Regions from separate parts of the Homo sapiens genome. Here region 1 is linked to region 2. The links come from fine-mapping of genetic effects on gene expression. Tissue or cell type: whole blood. Region 2 holds a variant in brackets; the other region holds the start of a gene. All regions are shown on one strand. Distances are between the middles of the regions.

Region 1 (2,680 bases), 110 kb before region 2:
GCCAAGAGGAGGGTGGAGTGAAGAATTCTGTGGCTCTGTAATACCTGGGGCGTTTGTCCCACTCAGCACATCTCAGTGTCTAAATACCCACCCTCAAGAAGTGGGACTGCAGCAGGAAGTGAAGTATCTTTGCATATGTTCAATATATAAACTAAACTCGAACATCTGGCAAACACCCCTTTCCTGGGTGAATTCTGGAAAACAGCACAATTATAATCCCAAGCAAATAACTCAGGAGTAAGACTGTTCCCTTGTTAAGAACACCAGGCAGCATCAGTAAAAGTTAAAACTTCTTCTGCATCTATGCGCTTTTAATCTCCACGGCCATTTCCATAATACCTGAGATTACCTGCGTTGATAGCTGGTGAGAAATCATCCCAGGCACCGCAGGTGGAGAAAAGAGATGAAAGCTACCTCAAGGCGTACACGTAAACCTTACTGAACAATGACCTTGATCGTTAGAAAGTCAAGAAAATGTACTGCCTTGCAAGCTGCCGGTGTTCTATTGAGTTTCTCTCCGGGGGCAACTCGGAGATGCCTTTTTGGCACCATCGGTTCTAGTATTTCCTCTGGCCTGCTGCGCCGCGCCTCATCCAGGCTTGTAGTGAGGCACCCCCACTCGCCCGGAGACCCGGGCCGGCCAGGAGGTGCCAGTGGGCAGGTGTGGCAGCCTGCCTGTTGATTACAGTCCCTACAATGTGCGAGCTCCTTGGGACTGCAGGCTGCGCGCCGCCAGCTTTGCCTGGTTCGTCCTGATTACACTAGGTTTTCGGGCAGAAACAGCGACACTGAGCTCGGGCTGGGGGTGGGGCCCTCGGGCCCAGTGCCCGCCCCCTGCCCTCCCACCGCCAGCCGAGAGAAGCCCGCCCGGGAGCGCGCTTTCTAATGCACCAGCCCCCGGGAACAATCTGTCCCTCCCAAACCCGCCACGGCGGGGGTTCACCTCCCGGGTACCCGCCGCGCCCACCCTATGGCCTAAATGTCTTTTCATATATTTTAAAAACTGAACTGTGTGCAGTGGGGATGCAGGGCGGGAAAGGCTGGAGGGCTCATTTTCGCCACCAGGCTTGCCTCTCCGGGCGCACGAATTAGGCCCGAGCTAGAGTCCAACCCCCTTCCCGCCTCAGGGGGCTCGGGGTGGCGCGGGGTTAGGGGCAATGAACGACGATGGAGGCGCCCCAGGCTCAGCGGCGGGCGGGGAGGCAGAGGCGGGTTCCAGGAGCCGGGCTGAGGCCCGGCAGGTGCCCCCAGGCGCGGAGGCTGATTGGCAGGTGCGTGAGTGGGTGGGGAAGGCGGGGGCTGGGCTTGGCGCTGCGGGAGGCTGCGGCCCCGCCTCCCCGCCCCCGCCGCGGGACTATCTGGTCCCGGCAGCAGCGATGTCCCCCGGCAGGAATGTCCCTCCTCAGATAATGTTATTTATATCTCTGGGCGGGTCCGCGGCTCGGCAGCACCAGGCGCCCGGCGGCCGCTGTGCCAGGAGCCCCGCGCTGCCCTCCTCCCCCTGCGCCGCCGCCGCCGCCACCCCCGGGCTCGGGGTGGCCCCCGCTTCAGTCCCAGGGCAGGTGAGTCCCAGGAGGGCCCGGCGGCCAAGGGAGCTGGGTGCGGGTGCGCAAGGCTGGGACGCGCGGCGCCAGCTCAAAGGAGCGCTGGGCCCAGGGGGCGCCTGACGCGCAGGGCCCAGAGGACCGGGTGGGAGTCCAGCCCCGGTTGTCGGGCGTGGGGTGGGAGGGGTGCGGGGCCCGGGAAGCCCGGCAGCTGCGGCAAAGATCATCCCGGGACGCGGGAACGCGCGCGGGCGTCCGAGGCACTTGGTGCTAGCTTTGGAGAGCGGGATCCCGGAGAGTCCGTCACCCCGGGGCGCAGGGAGAGGGTGACGGGGGTGCGTGTTCTCGTCCGCCTTCTCCAGGACCCCGGCCTGGGAGCGAAGGGGATTGCGCCTCTAGCCCGTCCGACCGCAGCGCTGCTCTCTGCCTTTTTTTGTCCGGCTTCTCAGCCTTGTGGCCGCTCATATCCCTCTTCTGGGGAACTTGGCTGCGCTCTCCTCGGGCCACCCAGCGCCCAGGCAGGAGGGACAGGTGAGGGCAGCAGAGGGGGCCGGGCCTCCGGGTGCTGGGAGCCACCCAGAGAGTGACCCCGTGTAGACCGAGGGAGGAAAGATCCTAGTGCCCCAAGCCATACTTCAAGGACCCCTAGTCTTCCTCTCCCAAAGAGTTCCTCTCTTCCTCTAAGCTTCTCCGGGCTACTCTACCCTCACCCTCCTCTCCAGTTTCCCCTCTTCCTCTAACTTGGTCTTGAGAAATAGCAGAAAGTGGGAGAAATAACAGAAGCTGTAAAACAATCCCCAACTCCCACCAACTCATCCGTACTTCCCAGGCTGGGGAAGCAGCTGCGGGGCTGGAGTGCTGTTTCCCTGACAACGAGCTTCAGGTAGGGCCTTGAGTTACAGCCTATTAATATCCAAACCACTGTTTTCAGTGAGCAATTAGAGGCGCCAGCCAGGAGTAAGGAAAATGAAAAGAAGCCACTGTTTTTTGTACATCTAAATTTTAGATGCATCAGATTGGGGGGTGGGGTGGGGGGATATAGTGACAGCCTTTTTGTACTGAGAATTTCTGTGGGGAGAGACTAGGCTGTCACCTCCAGGTAGGAGGCAGTCATGCAAAACCCCTGCCTGGAGGTA
Region 2 (2,680 bases):
AGGGCTGTAGGACCAAACCTGGCATTCTTTGCAGGACCCATCTGCGCACTGCCTCAGATGGTGAAGGGTGAGCCAAGCCTGAGCTTTTCTCCCTTTCCTCCCCATAGATCCGCGAGAAACTGCAGCAGGTGATGTCCAGGAGGAAAGAGATGAATGAGAAGTGGGAAGCCCGCTGGGAGCGGCTCCGCATGTGTGAGTACAGCCCTGGAGCCAGGGCCCAGGGGCAGGAGTACCCCCGCAGGAGTAGGGGAATGGGGAGGTGCCACAATGGGTGGATTTTCACTACTGCCTAGAGAGGAGCCCCCCACAGCACTGCTCTTCAGCAAAGCTCTGGGGCCAGGGGCCTCAGCGGTCCAGGCAGAAGGCCAGAGTAGACACGCTGCTGGAAGCCTCACTCTAACTAGCCAGCGTGCCCCCACTCCCTGCCCATCCTCTGCCGCACTTGTCCCCAGCCTCATGCCCGGGCTGGTATGCCTGCAGAGCTATGGCCTGGGGGAGGAGTTGGGGGCCCGGGGGAGGGGCTGGGGGCCTGGGGGAGGGGTTGAGGGTCCGGGGGAGGAGTTGGGGGTCTGGGAGAGGGGTTGGGGTAAGGCTCTGAGGAATCCCAGACATTCCTCATGAGGAATGTCAAGCACAGAACCGGCTCTTCGTCCTTCAGCTGGGTGCTGATGAGAGGTGGGGAAAAGCCACCATTCAGGGAGGAGCTGTGAGCCAAGAAGGGCCAACTGGTGCCCCTGGCCACTCATCCAGCATCATGTGAGACAGCCAAGGGCTGGGAAGAATGTTCAACACAGAAGACTCCTTTTCAGAGACATCTAAAATACATTTTGTTTTCAAAATAGAGTTCTAATTAGTGAAAAATATAGCTTAAAAAATATAACTATTGGGCCAGGCATGGTGGGTAACATCTATAATCCCAGCACTTTGGGAGGCCAAGGCAGGAGGATTGCTTGAGCTCAAGAGTTTGAGACCAGCCTGGGCAACATAGGGAGATCCTATCTACAACGACAGAAAAAATTAGCTGGGCATGGTGGTGCACACCTATAGTCCCAGCCACTTGGTAGGCTGAGATGGGAGGATCACTTGAACCCAGGAGGCTGAGGCTGCCATGAGCCATAATCACATCACTGCACTCCAGCCTGGGTGACAGATTGAAGCCCTCCCTCTAAAAAAATATAACTATTGTGAAGATCGGTTAGGGGCCCAGTGTGGAATGGGGTGGCTGCAGGCAGCAAGCGTATCCATGTGGTTTAGGGACACCTATTCAGGCCACCTGCCTGACCACTGGCCCCAATCAGGAGTGAACGATTGGGTGCTAACAGGCCCTGGGCCTTGTGGGGGGTCTGTGTCCTGTTCCC[C/T]CTGGCAGTGCTGGAGGTGTGCCAGTTCTCGAGGGATGCCTCTGTGGCTGAGGCGTGGCTGATTGCCCAGGAGCCCTACCTGGCCAGCGGGGACTTTGGACACACAGTGGACAGTGTGGAGAAGCTCATCAAGAGGCATGAGGCTTTTGAGAAGTCCACGGCCAGCTGGGCAGAGCGCTTTGCTGCCCTGGAGAAGCCCACCACGGTGAGCAGGGAACAGTGCTGGGAGGCTCAGGAGGGTGGCAACTGTGCCCCCAGGGGTCTCATGTAAGGACTCCAGGCCAGTTGTTAGGTACTTAGAATGGTGTGACAGGCTTGGCCAGCAGCGACAATGGGAAGGAAAGACAAGTGGCAGGAAGTACTGACCTCCGAATGCAAAGGACAGAAGGGGCTGACTCTAGAAGGAACAAGTGTCAGGGCATGTGGGGGTGCAGGGCCGCATCCAGAGGGAGATCGTCTGAGAACACAACTCGCCTCTGTGGCTGCTCTGACCCCTGGGCCTTCTCCTCCTCTAGCTTGAGCTGAAAGAACGCCAGATTGCAGAGAGACCCGCAGAGGAGACTGGGTGAGTGGTGGCCGTGTGTCCAGGGAGCTGAATGCTCTGCCAAGTGGGAGTAGGGGGTGCCTTTCATCAGAAACCTGACATTGGGACCAGTTGCATTTGACTTCTCACACTGGGCACCCTCGTCAGGAAGGCCCAGAGTGCCTGAGCATGAGCGCAGAGGACCTTTTGCTTCCCCAGTCACAGGCGGGCTGAAGGCCTGGTGCGGGAGGAGGGGGCTGGGAGCAGTGGCTGCCAGGCGAGGCCCCACCTCGGAGCCACCTGAACACGGGGCCCCACAGGCCGTTCTGCCTGGAACCTGGCTCCCTTCTGAAGAATCTGCCTTGGCTTTTCCGAAGAAGTCGCTGGGCGGCTCCTTGCCAAGCACCATCCAGGCTGCCGGCTGACTGGAGGGGGAGCTATTTGGTGCTCCTCCCTGTGGGCGCAGGTGAAAAGCCAGGCCTCGCAGGAGGCACTGGCCTCAGAGGGGTGCTTGTTTCTAAAGAGAGACTGTGTCTTCCTTAGGCCTCAAGAGGAGGAAGGCGAGACAGCAGGGGAGGCTCCAGTTTCCCACCATGCGGCCACCGAGAGAACGTCCCCGGTCAGTCTCTGGTCTCGTTTGTCTAGTTCCTGGGAGTCACTGCAGCCAGAGCCCTCTCACCCCTACTAGGCTCAGCCCAGGTGGAGGCGAGATGAGCTGGCGCAGCCCCGCCCTCCATCCTCCCCACATCCCTGCAGCCACCTCCCAGCAGAGCAGGCTACGTCCTCACTGAGGTGTTCT

The links. PIP is the estimated chance that this variant, and not a neighbour inherited with it, causes the effect.
Region 1: it holds the start of SPTB, and the variant in region 2 is fine-mapped to the expression of SPTB in whole blood (TOPMed, PIP 0.97).

Annotation. Positions count from the first base shown.
Region 1 is chr14:64,878,674-64,881,353 of GRCh38, reverse strand. SPTB (spectrin beta, erythrocytic) reads left to right here and starts at 1,447. Exons shown (of 36, transcript NM_001355436.2): 1 at 1,447-1,562. It overlaps LOC105370534 (a long non-coding RNA gene), which reads left to right. Exons shown (of 3, transcript XR_943942.3): 3 at 1-473. RefSeq lists silencers at 827-906, 977-1,116, 1,167-1,336.
Region 2 is chr14:64,766,546-64,769,225 of GRCh38, reverse strand. SPTB (spectrin beta, erythrocytic) reads left to right here. Exons shown (of 36, transcript NM_001355436.2): 29 at 108-192; 30 at 1,367-1,563; 31 at 1,874-1,923; 32 at 2,425-2,500. Among named protein-coding and RNA genes, the nearest start is that of MIR7855, 18 kb to the left of the region's middle. RefSeq lists an enhancer at 1,941-2,680. The variant C/T (reference allele first, on the strand shown) is at 1,359.